Linked DNA regions of Homo sapiens: region 1 is linked to region 2. The links come from fine-mapping of genetic effects on gene expression. A gene starts in region 2. The other region holds a variant in brackets. All regions are shown on one strand. Distances are between the middles of the regions. Region 1 has its middle 15 kb from the start of ZNF543. Region 2 holds the start of ZNF460 (zinc finger protein 460).

Evidence for each region. PIP is the estimated chance that this variant, and not a neighbour inherited with it, causes the effect.
Region 1: its variant is fine-mapped to the expression of ZNF460 in whole blood (INTERVAL, PIP 0.91).

The regions. Positions count from the first base shown.
Region 1 is chr19:57,302,602-57,307,978 of GRCh38, forward strand. No RefSeq gene overlaps it. Among named protein-coding and RNA genes, the nearest start is that of ZNF543, 15 kb to the right of the region's middle. RefSeq lists an enhancer at 38-537. The variant G/A (reference allele first, on the strand shown) is at 2,669.
Region 2 is chr19:57,277,133-57,282,509 of GRCh38, forward strand. It overlaps ZNF460 (zinc finger protein 460), which reads left to right and starts at 3,353. Exons shown (of 3, transcript NM_006635.4): 1 at 3,353-3,704. The coding sequence starts at 3,675. ZNF460-AS1 (ZNF460 antisense RNA 1) reads right to left here and starts at 3,202. Exons shown (of 3, transcript NR_136529.1): 1 at 3,147-3,202. RefSeq lists enhancers at 2,549-3,488, 2,603-3,194, 2,612-3,811, 3,195-3,786, 4,715-4,834 and a silencer at 4,209-4,258.

The DNA.
Region 1 (5,377 bases), 25 kb after region 2:
GAGACAAGGTACTGCTTCAGCTCAGGTACAGAGGGGTGTGACTGCTCTGGATGGTTAATGCACTGTTTTCCCAGGATGCCTGGCATTGCTTCAGCTCTGGCCTAGAGGGGCAGGATGTAGCAGCATCTGGGAGGGGTAGGTGGAGGAGCTTCGCCAAGGCATCCTTTCCTCAGGAGGCAATGTGCAGCTTCAGCTCAGGTCCCTGGAAGCAGGGCAGTTTTGGGAGAAGTAGACTGAGAGGTAGACAGTGAGAGGTGGATGTTGCACATCTGCCAGAGCATTGTTTTCCCAGGAGGGAGTGCACAGCTTCAGCTCTAGTCGAAGGTGACAGGACACAGCCTAGCATAGGGACTTGAGGGGTAGGTGGTGCAGCTCTCCCACTGCATGGCCCTACATGGGAAGGTGGAAAAGCTGCTTGTAGATGTTGGGCCACCAGGTGGGGGTGGATGGTGATGGCTTATCCTCAGGGATGAAGAGGTGCCATGGAACCAGACAGAACTCCAGCCGTTCCAAAATAACAGCACAGTAGCTGTATGGGCCACTGGGGGCAGGACAGTGTCAGCTCCTTCCTCAGGAGCACAGCTGTATGGACTCCAGGCGGGTCCGTCAGCTAAGCTTAGTGCCTGTGAGGGCTGTAGGGGACCCCAGTGGTGAGTACTGTAGGTGTCCAAGGTGGTGATGTACGCTGCTGGTATGCTATTGCTCACTTTTTCCACATACGGAGAAATTCCTTCTGGTTTTCAGCTGATCTTGGCTGGGGGATGGGGTTGTGGAGACCAGGTGTTCCATTCTCTGCTTGGCTATCCTGAGTTTCTGTGCTCACCAGAGTTTTTGTTATTACTTTGACATATTCTGGTGCTTTCCTTTAGTTATTTGCATTAAAATGTATTTGCTTATTTATTTTGGCTCTGTGGGGGTGGGGAGAACAGCATTTACGGACTGCTAATCTGCCTTCTTGCTGAAGTCACTCTCTTGCTACAGATATTTGGTTGGAAACATTTTCGTTTGTATTCTGTAAATAACTAGGAGTAGAATTGCTGTGTCATATGATATGTGTATATTTACCTGTATAGGAAACTGCCAAGTTGTTTTCCAAAATGGCTGTACCATTTTGATTTCTCACCAGTATTTTGTGGGAGCTCCAGTCCTACATCTTTTTGAGCACTTGGTTTTGTTACACTTTAAGTTTTTCAATTTAACAGATGTGTAGAGGTGTCTCATTGTGGATTTAAATTTCATTGCTGAAATGACTACTGGTATTGAGCATTTTTTCATATGTTCATTGTTCATATATCTTTAGTTATCTTTCCAAATCTTTTTTTTTTTTTTCTTGAGACGGAGTTTCGTTCTTGTTGCCCAGGCTGGAGTGCAATGGTGAGATCTCAGCTCACCACAACCTCCGTCTCCCAGGTTCAAGCAGTTCTCCTGCCTCAGCCTCCCAAGTAGCTGGGATTACAGGCCCCCACCACAACGCCCAGCTAATTTTTTTATTTTTTGTAGAGATGGGGTTTCACCATGTTGGCCAGGCTGGTCTTGAACTCCTGACCTCAGGTGATCCGCCCACCTCAGCCTCCCAAAGTGCTGGGATTACAGGCGTGAGCCACTGCACCAGACCCTATCTGTCCAAATCTTTTGTCCCACTTTAAATTGTTTTTTCTTCTTAACATTGAATTTTAAGAATTCATTGTATCTTTTAATATTCTGAATGCTAGTTATTTGTCAGATACATGTTTTGCAAACCATTTATCTGTATTTGGTTTCTTTTTGTTATCTTAGCAGTGTATCCTGAAGAATAGTTTTAAATTTTGATGTAATCCAAAATATTTCGGTTGTTTGTGTTCTTTGTTATCCTATTTTTGTTGTTGTTGTTTTATAGATATGGGGGTCTCACTACGTTGCCCAGGCTGGTCTTGATCTCCTGAACTCAAGTGATCCTCCCACCTCAGCCTCCCATCCTTGTCTACCTAATTAGGCTTTGTGTAACTCAGTGTTGCAAAGCTTTGACATCTGTTTGAGTTAATGTTTATATATGTTGTTACTTAAGGGTTTCACATTAAATTTAAACATACTTATATTTTATAACCAAACAAGTCATGTTGGGGCATACTCATTAGGATTGAGTGCTTTCTTACACCAAAATACATGTATACAAAGATTTAAAACACTTTCGGCCGGGCGCGGTAATCCCAGCACTTTGGGAGGCCGAGGCGGGTGGATCACAAGGCTAGGAGATCAAGACCATCTGGCTAACACGGTGAAACCCTGTCGCTACTAAAAAAATACAAAAAATTAGCCAGACGTGGTGGCAGGCGCCTGTAGTCCCAGCTACTCGGGAGGCTGAGACAGGAGAATGGCATGAACCCGGGAGGCAGAGCTTGCAGTGAGCCGAGATCACCCCACTGCACTCCAGCCTGGGCGACAGAGTGAAGGCTATGTCTCAAGAAAAAAAAAAAAAAACTTTTATAATAACAACTGTAAATAGTTCAATTGACAGTCATTTGTAAGATGTTTAAGTAAACTGTGAAACAGTAAGTAAATGGATGAAAACACACTGATTAAAACTGCTGCTTTTATCCAACAAGATGGATGAATTTCCCAGGAAAGAATACTTGAGTTCAGGCCTGTTCAAGTCCCAACCTGTTTGTGGTTTGAGGTTGCTCTCTGCCTC[G/A]TAGAGCAAAGTGGAAAATTTATCTTCTGGGAGGACAGAGTTTTCTTCTCTGAAAAAGTTTCCTACATAGTTGGCTTTGGCATTTGCAAGGAATGAAAGGTCAGGGATTGAGGCCTCATGAGTCTGGATTTCTAGCTGAGGTTGAGAGAAAAGGTAGTGATTGTAACCAGAAAATCCAGAGTGGGTGTATTTACCTCCAGAACTCATCACTTAAAAAAAAATTTTTTTTGAACTGACATGCTTGAGGCTTTTTCTTTTTTTTTTTTTTGAGATGGGGTCTTGCTCTATCCCCCAGGCTGGAGTGCAGTTGTGCAGTCATAGCTCACTGTAGCCTTATCCTCCTGGCCTAAGCAGTCCTCCTGCCTCAACCTCCCTAGTAGCTGAGACCACAGGCGCATGCCACCTGTGAGTTTCTAGAGATGAGGTCTCCCTATGTTCCCCAGCCTGGTCTTGAACTCCTGGGCTCAAGTGATCCTCCTGCCTCAGCCTTCCAAAGTGTTGGATTACAGGCGTGAGCCACTGTGCCTGGCCAGAGCTCATCACTGTTAACTCAGCCTGGGTTTTTCACAGCAGTCATGGAAATAGATTCATTAATAATAGTAACAAATATATAGTCTCCCTCTCAAAGAAACCTTGAGTGGCAGTGGCATACCAGATACACAGTAGGAAATACTGTAGAATTATGTTGTTAAGTTCATAACCAAACATCATACATGATGATAAAAGACAAGATAATGGTCACATTTATGCAGTATTAACTGAGAGGGCAAATTTGTGCCTGAGAAGCTATTGGGAATGTTCTCTCTCTTTGCATTACTAGGAATTACATGGGAAACACATGTAGACAGTCTTCAGGCTATTAAGATTTGTCCACTTAATCTTTACTTATACATGAATAAAAAATGGGAAAACATGATAAATATAATAAACTAATACACTCAACCCTGCCCCTTGATTATATAATAGAACAAAATCAGCATGCCCGGCATGAGCCTGCCAGATTGCCAATTCCATCCTCCACCTTCAGAGGATGCCGCCATCCAGAATTTTGCCTTACTCATTTTACTTTCTTCATAGTTCGACACCTTAAATGTATATTACTAATAGTAGCTTTGCATTTTTGGCTGATTTAAAAATTGATATAAATGAAATAATGCTGTAGAGATGCTTTTTGGTATTAAGTGGATATACTGTTATTCTTAAAGATGTTTGAAATGAATATACCTTTCTAAATATCTTTTTAAAATAATACATTAAATGATACTGCTTTAGAATTCATGAACTGCATCTCATGAGAATATGTAGAGATGACGTGGGCAGGTAAAGTAAAACTTCAGGTTGAATATCCTATGATAATTTAAAAATGACAAAATAGTGTGGTGAATAATAGAGCTTGAGCACTTTAAGGCACCGTAGGGACCCCTTCAATGTAATGATGACAGTGCTGAGGTGCAGAGAAGTTAGGTAATCAGCCCAAGCCACTACTCTAAGGACAGACCCTATCTACTTTTCCTAATTTGTCAGAAGACTGCCTATGATACTACTAATAAAAAGTCCTATGAAATTGGTATTGTCATTATTTTACAAATAAAATAATCTTCAATTTTTGTTTCCTCTATGCATGGGTTACTTAGTATTTTGTAATTTGAATTTCAAGCATAATTAAAAAGAAATCAGGTATCTAGGCTGGGCATGATGGCTCAAGCCTGTAATCTCAACATTTTGGGAGGCTGAGGCAAGAGGATCACTTGAGGCCAGGAGTTTGAGGTATCTTTTGTTGATCTCTACACTGATTGTATTCTCTCTTTTATTCTATGAAAGTTAAAGATTTTTTCTGATACTACATATTGTCAGTTTTTTAAATACTCAGTTTGTGCTAAAAGAAAACATTCGGCAACTGATATCTGCTGTTCTGTATGTATCTGTCAGTCCAGATTTGTCCATTATGGTGTATGAATCTAATAGAACCTCACCAATGTTATACCTGCCTTCTTGAAATCATTACTGAGATAGCTAATATTAAAATATCCTGGTTTGTCTGTATATTTAATTCTTTACTCTCATTATACTAAATTTTTTTAATGTAATTTGAATTGATGGTAAAAATTGTATACAGGCCGGGTGCAGTGGCTCACTCCTATAATCCCAGCATTTTGGAAGTCCTATGCAGGAGGATTGCCAGAGGCCAGGAATTTGAGATCAGCCTGGGCAACATAGTGAAACTCTCATCTTTATAAAAAGTAATATTAAAATTTTTAAAAGTGTATAAACTGTAAAGTATATTTTACTGGTGTTTTCTTCCTTATTCCTACTTGTCAGATGCAAATACACATTTTTGTGTGTTTGTGTTTAGTAATTATAAGTATACATATTTCATTCTTCTATTTCATATATTTCTATGACATTATATCTTAGATGTGTAATTTATGAACTACTACTGGATTATTTTAATCCATTAGAAATTACTATTCACGCATTCTGTATTCAATTCATGTGATAGCTAATATATTTGGTTTTAAATGCATCTTATTTTGTGGTTTTCTTCTAGGCTGTTTTTTGTGCTTTCTTTTAAAAATATATAGGTTTTAATAATCTTAATTTTCTTTTAGTTTGAAATGTATATACTCATTTTATTCATTAGTCTAAGATAAGAATTGTAACACTTCTCTAACCTATTATAGAATTGTTAATACCTTTACCCTTCTCTTG
Region 2 (5,377 bases):
GCTTAAATTTGCCCCCAGATAGGCCCTGTCATCTTTAATCCAACCTCTGACTTGGAGTTTCAACATGTGGTCTCTGGGCAAGATGGTCGCCCTGAGTAATAGAGTAATAGAAAAGATAAGAAAGGGGCCGGGCGCAGTGGCTCACGCCTGTAATCCCAGCACTTCAGGAGGCCGAGGCGGGCAGATCACAAGGTCAGGAGATCGAGACCATCCTGGCTAAGATGGTGAAACCCCGTCTCTACTAAAAATACAAAAAATTAGCCGGGCATGGTTGCAAGCGCCTGTAGTCCCAGCTACTCGGGAGGCTGAGGCAGGAGAATGGCCTGAACCCGGGAGGTGGAGCTTGCAGTGAGCAGAGATAGCGCCACTGCACTCCAGCCTGGGCGACAGAGCGAGACTCCGTCTCAAAAAAAAAAAAAAAATTATATATGGAAATGCTTTCGCAGGCAATACTTTCCCAGGAAATATTTTCCACAAGCAATACTTTCCCAGGGAAGGCAAAATGATCAGGGAGGCCAGAGAAAGACCCACCCATTGCAGTGACACTGAAAAGTTCAGGCGGCTACGGCTGCTGTCGTGAAGGGATTTTTTTCCAGCAGTCCCGTCAGCTCTCAAGTTTCCCCTTTTGGGGGAGGAAAAAGCTCCCCATGTCCCACGATCCTGTACACGCCTAACCCTGTCGCCCGGAGCCATCAGCAAAGAGTGCAAGGCAGATTAATCCAAAGACAATAGCAGTTAACATCCCACGGTGCCAAACCTCTTCTTAGCCAAGAGGGACTTTACTGAGAGGGGTCTCTAACCCCCTAAATCTTAGAAGGGACTCTAATCCTCCTAAGTTGGGCCTCTAACCCAAGGTCAGTCAAGCGTCCTTGCCTTTTATTAAGAGGGGCCTCTAATCCACTCTGCCTTAGGAGAGACTCTAACTCCCCTAACTTGAGCGTCTATCCCAATCCCATTCTTTACCTGGGTACCCCACCACTTACCCAAAGTCATCCAATCAGTGCTGCAGTCTATTTCCTTTGAGTCAGGGGGGTCTCCTCAGCATTGTCCCTTTTGTGGTTTGCGAGAAAAGTGTTACCCGACCCCACCACTTACCCAAAGTTAGCCTTTGGGTCACGGGTTCCTGCAGTATAGTCTCTTCTGTAGTGGCCAGGAATGTGTTACAGGAAAGGGGTCCCAATCCATATCCCAAGAGAGGGTTCTTGGATCTCGCACAAGAAATAATTCAGGGCGAGTCCACAGTGCAAGTGAAAGCAAGTTTATTAAGAAAGTAAAGGAATAAAGAATGGCTACTCCATAGACAGAGCAGCCCCAAGGGTTGCTGGGTGCCCATGTTTATGGTTATTTCTTAGTGACTTGCTAAACAAGGGGTGGATTGTTCATGCCTCCCCTTTTCAGACCACATAGGGTAACTCCCTGACATTGCCATGGCATTTGTAAACTGTCGTGGCACTGATGGGAGTGTAGCAGTGAGGAAGACCAGAGGTCACTCTTGTCACCATTTTGGTTTTGGTGGTTTTGGCCAGCTCCTTTACTGCAACCTGTTTTATCAGCAAGGTCTTTATGATCCGTATTTTGTGCTGACCTCCTATCTCATCCTGTGACTCAGAATGCCTTAACTGTCTGGGAATGCAGCCTAGTAGGTTTTAGCTTCATTTTACCCAGCTCCTATTTAAGATAGAGTTGCTCTGGTTCATATGCCTCTGAAAAAACCATTTAAATTTAATTATAAGAGTCTGGCCAGAGGGGGTGGCTCACGTCTGTAATCCTAGCACTTTGGGAGGCCGAGGTGGGTGGATCACCTGAGGTCGGGAGTTTGAGACCAGCCTGAACAACATGGAAGAACCCTGTCTCTACTAAAAATATAAAATTAGCCAGGCGTGGTGGCGCACACCTGTAATCCCAGCTACTCAGGAGGCTGAGGCAGGAGAATCGCTTGAACCCGGGAGGCGGAGGTTGCAGTGAGTGGAGACTGTGCCACTGCTCTCCAGCCTGGGCAACAAGAGTGAAACTCCATCTCAAAAAAAAAAAAAAAAAAAAAAAATTTAAGAGTCACAAATATGTGAAAAAGAGAATGATGTCTTTATCAATTTTCAAAAATTACTATTGCCAGTGATGAATAACAGTGTTCCTTGCACACTAATTTAGCCAAAAATATTTCTCCAAAAGTACCGCATCGTGTAGGAAATTGACTCCATCTCCATTCCTTGACTATTTTCAATCTCAAAATTAAATCTCTTGGAGAGTACTTTCTGCACACCTTTCTATTTCCTTAACCATATATATCGTCAAACCATTGAAAGCTGGACTTTATTCTCTCACTTTCATAGTCATGAAAAGAAAAAAAAAAAGTTACTGATGGGGACTCCTAAGACTTCGCATAATATAATCTTTGCATAGTCTAGGATTGTTAAAATTCCTAACAAGACTTTATAAACTCTCCTGTCTGCAACCAGTTAATGCTGGGTTGGGCCAGGGTTCCCCTCTTTCCCGTCACTTATCCATCTACGCTCATTCTTTTCATAGCCTCACCCAATATCATGACTTGAAGTAACAGTTTACAGTAATAACTCCCAAATTTATATATCCACGCTCGAACCCTCTGCCAATGTTGAATCATAGGTTGAGTATATGGCACTACGCTTTGTGGTCTTACTGACGTTTCAAACTGATCATGCTTGAAATGGGAGTACTGGGCTTCCCGGCAAGCCTGCTCCACTAGCAGCCTCCCCACCTCAGGGTACGGGAAGTCCACACGTGGCGAACGCGAAGCCTATTACATCACCCGGAAGTCCCTGCATCCTACGAAGGCTGGGCCCGGCCAAAGGAGGCCCAATAGAGGGCGGTCTGTCCTTTCCCAGCAGGCTGGGCACACTGTCAGGCGTCCTCCTTTGGGTGGCTATTTTAACTGCTCATTTATCCTTTTCTTCTATGAAAAGATCCAGAAAAGAGGCAAAGCAAGCGAGAAGTCGCGGGCCCAGCCCACAGCAGGGTAAGCACCTTTGTTCGGGGTCTGAATCGGGGCGAATATCCCCGCCTCCTGACCTCGATTTTCCTGAGCTAGAAGGGACCTTTCGACCCTCCGACTTGTGCCTATACTAAGGCGGTGGCCCTAAGACGACGCGGGGGTTCTGGTGCGCACTTACGTGCAGTCGGATGCGCTGGGTGAGTTCCCACACCCGGTAGATGTAAGGGAAAAACTGCATTACCCAGAAGGCACTGCCCCTTGCGTCGGCCGCGGACTCTGGGCCATTGACGACCCAGGACAGGAGAGTTTTCTGCGGGCCAGGGCGGCGGAGGCGGGACTTCCGCTTCTTCGTGTGACGTCATCTCCGTGGGCCGGTTTGGCCCTGAAACAGTGTGGGGCCTAGAGCGCTGGGTGGGCGCGTTCTGCGGCCTGAGCAGGGACGGGTAGTGAAGCGGTTACGCCCCTTCTTCGCGTCTTGGCGGGAGCCTGACGCCCCGCTTCTCCCCTAACGAGGTGTCCCACCGGCGCCCGCCGAGGCCTAGGCCTCCGCAGCCGCCCTCCGTCTCCTCAGCCCCGACGCTGCGCCTTGGGCCTTGTGCGCATTTTTTTCGGGGGAAAACTGAGGCTCGGAGTGCGAAAGTCAGCCGAGGTCGCCCCGCCCAGGACAGAGAAGGGCTGTGGTCGGCTGATCCGCGGCATTCCCGGGATGGCGGCGGCGTGGATGGCTCCGGCGCAGGTGAGTGGACGAGGTTTCGGCCTTGCTGCTGCTGTGCTATTTCTAGAGGCCTCGTGGGCAGGCTGGAAGCCAAGACAGCCACAGGATTTTTCTTTGTCGCCATCGTTTATTTAAGAGAAATGGCCGTGGCTTGTCATTTCCTTTATCCGCAGTCCTGCAACAGTGTTGGCCTCTGATAGGTGTTCAGTCCGTGGTTGAAGGAGTGATGCTTCCTTCTAGGGATCTCATCACACTTCCCCTAAATCCAACCTTCTCTGTTGCCTGCCAGCCCGTACCCCATCCACCTGGCCAACCACCCCTGACCTTGTCTGTTTGCATTTTTCCCTGGTCCTTTGCTCTTCAGAGCCACCAACCTGACCGTGCAGTCCTCTTCCATTTTCCAGGCTTTCTCCTTGCACTTCCTTTTACTTCGAACACTGCCCCTGTAACTTTGCAGGGCCTCCCTTTCACATCCTTTTGGCATCTGTCCAGGTGTCACCTATTTGGAGGTGCCTTTTTTGGCAATTCCGGCTAAAGTGGCACCTTACACCCTTGCCCAGAGTCTGGTATTTTTGTGTAGATAATCTGATGGTATTAAAGAAGCTTGTGGATTTGAGTTTGTCAAGGATGTAATGGGAACAAAGAAAAATAATTGCAAAGAATGATATTAACTGTCATTGAGTCCTTGCTGTGGGCTGATCGGTGAGTATTATTTAACCCTCAGTTCGTTTAACCCTGAAATTTTTTTTTTTTTTTTTTTTTTTTTTTGAGACGGAGTCTTGTTCTGTCGCCCAGGCTGGAGTGCAGTGGCGTGACCTCGGCTCACTGCAACCTCCGCCTTTTGGGTTCAAGCGATTCTCCTGCCTCAGCCTCCTGAGTAGCTGGGACTACAGGTGTGCGCCACCACGCCTGGCTAATTTTTGTATTTTTAGTAGAGACGGGGTTTTACCGTGTTGGCCACGCTGGTCTTGAACTCCTGACCTCAGGTGATCCACCCATCTGGGTCTCCCAAAGTGCTGGGATTACTCTTTAGAATTAGGTTCTGTTGTCATCATTGTTTTACACAAGAGCAATTTGAGGGTCACATACGTCCAATTACCTGCCTTACATCACTGTAGCTCTTAAGTTTCTTAAGTCAGAAACTAACAACTGGTGTGTCTAACATCATAGCCTGTGTTTTTACCCTCTTCTTTACCCGCAGTGGTTAGGGAGGCCTGGGGGTGAGACCTAAAGTAACCTTTGCAAGATGAGGCCTCCTTCTAGCCAGTGATCTTGGGCATGAGGAGTCATGGCCTTTCATACTGGTGGAACTGTGTAGACTTAAAAAATGGTATATTGGTTGTTTAAGGAGTTCTCAGGGGACCTGTGTGGCTTCCACGGTGGTTTTATATGTGGTTCCCCTTACTCCCTTACCTGCTGACATATTCTGAGAGGGCACGTTTGTATGGTTATGTTGCTGAATGTACCCTCCTACTCAGCCAGGATAGATGTAATCTCCAGATGGGCCCATATTGTCTTGGCTACAACCTGCTGTGCCCTCTATGACTCTTGTTGCTTGCTCATGGAATCTTCTGGCCTCAGGGATGCCTGCTAGTAGGACTTAGGTAGAAAAGGAAGCGATGGCTCATTGTGAATTCTCCCTGGAAGCAGGTCCAGGCCCTAACACCTGATCAGGTGTCACCACGTCAGGTGAT